Linked DNA regions of Homo sapiens. Changing the gene in region 1 together with any one later gene gives a genetic interaction. Each region holds a gene or a part of one and is shown in the gene's direction. Other genes may lie near its edges. The genes, in order: PXN and KEAP1.

Region 1 (3,808 bases):
GCCGGACACTGGGGGACCCCGCTGGGATGGGGCTCTGCCTTCAAGTGGACTCCTTCCTGTGTGCAGTGTCTGCCAGCTCTGTTTGCTCAAGCCAGGGGGGACGTTTGCTGAGCTTGCAAGGGGACTCTGACCCTTAACCATTTTGCAGCCTATGGGGAAGTCTCAGGTATTTGCACCCATTGGAAATCAAAGTAAAGCTAGGAGTCTACTGTTGGCTTGCCTCCTGTATTTCTGGTTTTCTTTCTTGAGGAGTTTGTGGGGGGTTTGGAGGCACCAACCCCTACCCCTCTTGCCTAGTCCTTGCCTGTCCAAATCACTAGGTGAGAATGAAGGGTGGAGAGAGAGGAGGAAGCCATACCAGAGACCCTGTGGCTGGTGGATGGACTTGCTGGGGTTTTTCTCTGTCCCTCAAATAGACAAAACTTTGGAGAAAACTGAATAATGATGTGCCTTCTCCCTGACATCTGCACTCTATGATTTGTTCGTTTGTTTTTAAGACAGGGTCTTGCTCTGTCACCCCGGCTAGAGTGCAGTGGTGCAATTGTAGCTCACTGTAGTCTTGACCTCCTGGGCTCAAGCAATCCTCCTGCCTCAGCCTCCTGAGTAATTGGGACTACAGGCGCATATCACCACACCCAGCTAATTTTTAAATTTTTTGTAGAGATGGGGTTTCACTGTGTTGCCCAAGCCGATCTCCAACTCCTGTTCTCAAGTGATCCTCCCACCTCAGCCTCCTGAATAGCTGGGACTATAGGCATGCGCCACCACACCCAGCTAATTTTTAAATTTTTTGTAGAGACAGGCTCTCACTGTTTTGCCCAGGCTGGGACATGCTACAATTTGAATGTTACTTTATTACTTTTCTTTTCTTTTCAAGGTTGCCCTTTTCATGGTTTGCTCATATTCTACCCAGAAAAGACTTAGGAGACTTAGAAGAAGTTAGTACTTTGCATCCTACCTACACTGCTCTCCTTGGAGGAAGACCTTATTCTGGATTTTACAGAGCAAATCAGATCTGATGTTTGTAGCTTCCAATGTGCTATGGAGCTTCCTCCTGCAGAGTGACTTGGGTCTGGAGAGCCTGATATTTGCAACTGATGTCTGCAGCTTCCAGTGTACCTGCTAGCCCTTATAAACCTCACACCAGTACTTTGAGGTCAGAGTTATTCAAGAGCTTACTGAGACAACAGGCCCTGAGAAGCTAAGCGATTTGCCCTGTGGCATGGATGGTAGAGAGGGGAGCTGGCACTTGAACTCAGGTCTGGCTCGACCTCAGAATGAGTGATCTTGTGTCTCTGTGCCCCAGGACTGCATCCTCTCACCAATACTTCACCAGCCTAGGGATCTGTGCTCCCAAGAGCCTGTTGACATTGTAAACCTGAATCCAATCCATAAACCAAAAGCCCAGGCTTAGAATCACATTGTGGTGGAGCGGGTGTTTGGTGGAGTCCCTGATTCAAAATGTTTGACAAGGAAGCCTGACCATTTGTCTTCTGTTGGGTGTTTGGAGTCCAAGAGACCTGAGATCAGAGTCCAGCATTGTCACTTCATCCAGCCTTGGCAGTGTGGGATGTGACTCTGCCTCTGAACCGCAGTTATACCATCTGTGCTGGTGGCGTTGTGAGGATGGCAGGTAACAAAGGTGAAGCTCCTGGCCCCAGTGGGCCTTCAAGGATGGCAGCTGCTCCTGCCCCCTACTGGGGTTGCACTCATTCGTTGCCTGCTCTGGGGAGTCCTATGGGGTTTCTTAGCTGGCCCTGCCCATGGTGGAGAAAGAGGGATCCACCCATTGCTGATTGGGCCCAGAGGAAATGAGGACACTGCGTGAAGCCAAGACAGCAGGTGTGGCCCTGGAGAGGCCGTGGGGATTGGCCTGGACACTGGTTCCTTTTCTGCCGTTACCTAGATACCTACCAACTCCCTCTAGTTCCGGTTTGCTAGAGACAGGAAGCCAGGCCTCCTCCATGGGACCCGGAGGGCGGGGCGGGCTGTAGGACCTGAACTTCCTTGGAGGTCAGGCGACCAGACCCGGGGTCCTGGGCCTTGGAACAGACATCCCCTCTGTCCATCTGGGCAGGAGCATGGGGTAGGTGTGGCCAGCCTTGAGGGTAGGAGATCAGGACAGGCAGCTGGGACAAGGTGTGGCCCCATAGACCGAGGCCCTGGGTGAGGGCCTTGCTTCTCTATTCCCTCCTCTGAACACAGGTTGGGGGACTGGGAGCAAGGCCACAAGGAAGGATCACACTGGCAGGCCTCACAGCTTGGGCCTCCAACATTCAGGAAGTTGAACCCTTTAAGTATGGCATCATCTGGTAGTCATAGTGGCCTCTTACAGGCCAGGTTTTTGGGGTTTGGGGCTTCTGAGGAGTCAGACAATTGTGCCACTCACTGGCTTTGTTATTTGGAGCAAACACCTCTGACCTCTGCCTCTCCAAGCCCGGCTTTCCTCATCGCTTCGGGGAGAATCATTTCCAGCTACAGGGGGTATTAGGGGGATTAACGGAGACCTCGTACATGCTGCTAGAATGCCTAGCAGTCTGCCTGCTACTGATAAGTGGCAATAAACGCAGCCATTGCTTTTTAGATGTTTATTATCCTGAGGGCTAGGGATCAAGCTGTCAGCTCCCTGGACCCAGCAGGTTACCGGGGAGCTGAGAGCAAGCAAGTTGTGAACGGGGCAGGAATGAGGGTGTGGCATCCAGGGCCAGGCTGTCTGAGCCGTGGGGCTGTTGAGGGTCCCAGGAGGGGATGGAGGAAGTGGGGGTCAGCAGGTCCTACTCCTGCCCTTCTATACCCTTCTTTTCTGGAGACTGGGGAGACCTAGTGCCCCCCTGTTGGCTGCCAGGTGCCAGGGTAATGGAAGCTTACACTAGAGGGCTGATTTGGCTCCCTTGCCGCTGTTAAAAGCAGAACAGTGGGGGCCTGGAGCCTCTGGGGCCGGGCTGCTTGCCAGACTTCCGCAGAAACAGCCAATGGAGCAGTCTTGCCCCCTGCTCACTGAGGGGGTGGGGACCGCTGCACCAGCCTCACTCCAGCCCCCACCTCCCCGCACACCTTACCCCATAAGCCTAGAGCCTCAGGAGGAACCTGGAGCCTGGGCTTCTGCTTCCACCTGGTTAGGAGGGCAGGGACCATCCTGAGTGCCCCTTCCAGTCGGGGGCTGGGAAAGCCTAAGCTCTTAGAAATCAAGTGAGGGCCTGGCATAGCCAGGGCCCCTCCCTGTGACGTGGGGCCCCTCCCGCCCATTCTCTCCGCGTTGCCCTGCAGATTCAGAGTTCCAGACAGGCACTTCACTCGCGGCTGCGCGGCCCTGTCAGGAGGGAACGCAGTGCCAGGTGCCTGACTCCCAGAGGTAGGAGATCCCACAGGGCAGCCCCAGAGCCCGCCTCTAGAGCACTTTCAGTCCTGGGTGGCCAGAAGAAGTTAGCTTTGGGAGCCGGCTCTTGGTTAGGCTGGTCGGGGCTGGTGGCTTCCTGTCCCAAGGCTGGTCATTTCTCCCATGGGTGGGGCAGGTGCTAGAAGGCATTAACTCTTGAGGTGCAGGCAGGGAGGGCCCTGCCACGGGAGAGTCCCCAGGATCCCGGTTCTCACCTGCTACCCGTGCCTTCTCTTTGCAGACGCCCTGCTGGCGGACTTGGAGTCTACCACCTCCCACATCTCCAAACGGCCTGTGTTCTTGTCGGAGGAGACCCCCTACTCATACCCAACTGGAAACCACACATACCAGGAGATTGCCGTGCCACCCCCCGTCCCCCCACCCCCGTCCAGCGAGGCCCTCAATGGCACAATCCTTGACCCCTTAGACCAG
Region 2 (3,808 bases), on another chromosome or scaffold:
CTCCTCGGCCTCCCAAAGTGCTGGGATTACAGGCATGAGCCATCGCGCCGGATGAACCTGTCTCTTTAAGGGGGAAAAAAAAAAGGAAAAAAAAGAGTATCTGGCCCTTAAGTATTCCACGAAGGTCAGCTATAATGGCCATTGTCCCCATTTTTCTTACGCCCTTGCAGGTATGAGCCAGAGCGGGATGAGTGGCACTTGGTGGCCCCAATGCTGACACGAAGGATCGGGGTGGGCGTGGCTGTCCTCAATCGTCTCCTTTATGCCGTGGGGGGCTTTGACGGGACAAACCGCCTTAATTCAGCTGAGTGTTACTACCCAGAGAGGAACGAGTGGCGAATGATCACAGCAATGAACACCATCCGAAGCGGGGCAGGTGGGTGGGGACGGTAGGGAGGGGAGCACCCAGGAACACCCCCTACCATCCTGGGGTGAAACTGAGCCAGGCCTGGGAGAGACCCCCTGTTGCAACCCTCATGCTGGGGTAACCACAGAAGCCCTGGATTCTGATAGAGTCCAAGCTTCTCTCTCTCCCCGCTTCATTTCTGAGGGTGAGAAGGGAGAGGAGAGAGGAAAGGTCTCCCTCAAGGAGGTGATGGCTGGGGTTCCCAAAGCCAGACCCCCAGAGTCACCTTCTCTGCATGGTGCCCTTTAGGCGTCTGCGTCCTGCACAACTGTATCTATGCTGCTGGGGGCTATGATGGTCAGGACCAGCTGAACAGCGTGGAGCGCTACGATGTGGAAACAGAGACGTGGACTTTCGTAGCCCCCATGAAGCACCGGCGAAGTGCCCTGGGGATCACTGTCCACCAGGGGAGAATCTACGTCCTTGGTGAGGCCCTGGGGGCGGGGAAGAGTCCTGACTAGCCCATCTTTTGTGGACTGCTTTTGCTTTTGCTTTCCTTTTTTTTTTTTTTTTTTTTTTTTTTAGAAACAAGGTCTCGCTCTGTTGCCCAGCTGGAGTGCAGTGGTGTGATCACAGCTCGCTGGAGCCTCAACAGCCTGGGCTCCAGCCATCCTCCTGCCTCAGCCTCCCAAGTAGCAGGGACCACAGGCGCGCACCACCACACCCGGCTAATGTTTTTTTTCTTTTGAGATGGTGTCTCACAGTGTTGCCCAGGCTGGAGTGCAATGGCATGATCTCAGCTCACTGCAACCTCCACCTCCTGGGTTCAAGCGATTCTCCTGTCTCAGCCTCCTGAGTAGCTGCGACTACAGGCACATGCCACCACACCAGGCTAATTTTTTGTATTTTAGTAGAGACAGGGTTTCACCATGTTGGCCAGGATGGTCTCGAACTCCTGACCTCGTGATCCACCTGCCTCGGCCTCCCAAAGTGCTAGGATTAGAGGCATGAGCCACCGCGCCCGGCCTGTTTTGTTTTTTGTTTTGTTTTGTTTTGTTTTGTTTTTTGAGACAGAGTCTCAGTCTGTTGCCAGGCTGGAGTGCAATGGCACGATCTCAGCTCACTGCAACCTCCGCCTCCTGGTTTCAAGTGATTCTCCCCCATCAGCCTCCCAAGTAGCTGAGATTACAGGCGCCTGCCACTATGCCCAGCTAATTTTTGTATTTTAGTAGAGATGGGGTTTCACCATGTTGGTCAGGCTGGTCTTGAACGCCTGACCTCAGGTGATCTGCCCACCTCAGCCTCCCAAAGTGCTGGGATTACAGGTGTGAGCCACCGCGCCCAGCTTAATGTTTTTGTTTATTTTTATTTTATTTTATTTTATTTTTTTGAGACAGAGTTTTGCTCATGTTGCCCAGGCTGGAGTGCAATGGCGCAATCTTGGCTCACTGCAACCTCTGCTTCCCAGGTTCAAGTGATTCTCCTGTCTCAGCCTCCTGAGTAGCTGGGAATACAGGCACGTGCCACCACGCCTAGCTAATTTTTTTTTGAGATGGAGTTTCACTTTCGTTGCCCATGCTGGAGTGCAATGGCTCGATCTCGGCTCACTGCAACCTCCACCTGGCAGGTTCAAGCGATTTTCCTCCCTCAGCCTCCCGAGTAGCTGAGGTTACAGGCATGCGCCACCACGCCCGGCTAATTTTGTATTTTTAGTAGAGAAGGGTTTTCTCCATGTTGGTCAGGCTGGTCTCGAACTCCTGACCTCAGGTGATCTGCCCGCCTCGGCCTCCCAGAGGGATGGGATTACAGGTGTGAGCCACCATGCCCGGCCAATTTTGATTTTTAGTAGAGACGGGGTTTCACAATGTTAGCCAGGCTGGTCTTGAACTCCTGACCTCAGGTGATCCACCTGCCTCAGCCTCCGAAAGTCCTGGGATTACAGGCATGAGCCACTGTGCCCGGCCTTTATTTTATTTTATTTTTATTTTTTTATTTTTTGTTTATTTATTTATTTATTTATTTTGAGGTGGAGTCTTGCTCTGTCACCAGGCTGGAGTGCAGTGGCACAATCTCAGCTCACTGCAACCTCCGCCTCCCGGGTTCAAGCGATTCTCCTACCTCAGTCTCCCAGGTAGCTGAGATTACAGGCGTGCATCACCAATCGCATCTAATTTTGTATTTTTAGTAGATACAGGGTTTCACTCTGTTGGCGAGGCTGGCCTCGAACTCCTGATCTCAGGTGATCTGCCCGCCTCGGCCTCCCAAAGTGCTGGGATTGCAGGCATGAGCCACCGCGAGTGGCCTATTTTCCTATTTTTATTTATTTATTTTGAGATAGGGTCTCACTCTGTTGCCTAGGCTAGAGTACAGTGGTGCAGCCTCTGCTCACTGCAACCTCTGCCTCCCAGACTCAACTGATCCTCCCCACCTCAGCCTCCCTAATAGCTAGGACTACAGGCGCGCACCACCAAGCCTGGCTAAATTTTTATGTTTTTTTGTAGAGATGGGGCTTCACCATGTTGCCCAGGCTGGTCTCAAACTCCTGGACTCAAGTGATCCACCCACCTCAGTCTCCCAAAGTGCTGGGATTATAGGCGTGAGCTACCAAGCCTGGCCATTTTTTTTTTTTTTTTTTTTTTTTAGTAAGAGACTAAGGTTTTGCTATGTTGCCCAGGCTGGCTTCGAACTCCTGGCCTCAAGCAATCCTCCTGCCTCAGCCCTGCAAAGTGCTAGGATTATAGGCGTGAGCCACCACGCCCGGCCTGCTTTTGCATCTCACAGCTGCATCTCTCTCTTTCTGTCCCCTGCTCTTGGATGTGGTGTGACAGGTGGTGACCATCCCTTCTGTTCTTCCCGCAGGAGGCTATGATGGTCACACGTTCCTGGACAGTGTGGAGTGTTACGACCCAGATACAGACACCTGGAGCGAGGTGACCCGAATGACATCGGGCCGGAGTGGGGTGGGCGTGGCTGTCACCATGGAGCCCTGCCGGAAGCAGATTGACCAGCAGAACTGTACCTGTTGAGGCACTTTTGTTTCTTGGGCAAAAATACAGTCCAATGGGGAGTATCATTGTTTTTGTACAAAAACCGGGACTAAAAGAAAAGACAGCACTGCAAATAACCCATCTTCCGGGAAGGGAGGCCAGGATGCCTCAGTGTTAAAATGACATCTCAAAAGAAGTCCAAAGCGGGAATCATGTGCCCCTCAGCGGAGCCCCGGGAGTGTCCAAGACAGCCTGGCTGGGAAAGGGGGTGTGGAAAGAGCAGGCTTCCAGGAGAGAGGCCCCCAAACCCTCTGGCCGGGTAATAGGCCTGGGTCCCACTCACCCATGCCGGCAGCTGTCACCATGTGATTTATTCTTGGATACCTGGGAGGGGGCCAATGGGGGCCTCAGGGGGAGGCCCCCTCTGGAAATGTGGTTCCCAGGGATGGGCCTGTACATAGAAGCCACCGGATGG

The links.
Region 2: changes in PXN (region 1) and KEAP1 together harm fitness more than expected from each alone (negative genetic interaction), as found in Homo sapiens cells (one large-scale study listed by BioGRID).

What each region holds. Positions count from the first base shown.
Region 1 is NC_000012.12:120,224,187-120,227,994, reverse strand, and holds part of PXN (paxillin), read left to right. Parts: intron 1-877; exon of another isoform or gene 878-1,626; coding exon of another isoform or gene 1,627-1,642; exon of another isoform or gene 1,643-1,811; coding exon of another isoform or gene 1,812-1,842; intron 1,843-2,573; exon of another isoform or gene 2,574-3,617; coding exon 3,618-3,808. UniProt on the Homo sapiens protein: Cytoskeletal protein involved in actin-membrane attachment at sites of cell adhesion to the extracellular matrix (focal adhesion). Recruits other proteins such as TRIM15 to focal adhesion.
Region 2 is NC_000019.10:10,486,216-10,490,023, reverse strand, and holds part of KEAP1 (kelch-like ECH-associated protein 1), read left to right. Parts: intron 1-170; coding exon 171-376; intron 377-655; coding exon 656-832; intron 833-3,205; coding exon 3,206-3,372; 3' UTR 3,373-3,808. UniProt on the Homo sapiens protein: Substrate-specific adapter of a BCR (BTB-CUL3-RBX1) E3 ubiquitin ligase complex that regulates the response to oxidative stress by targeting NFE2L2/NRF2 for ubiquitination.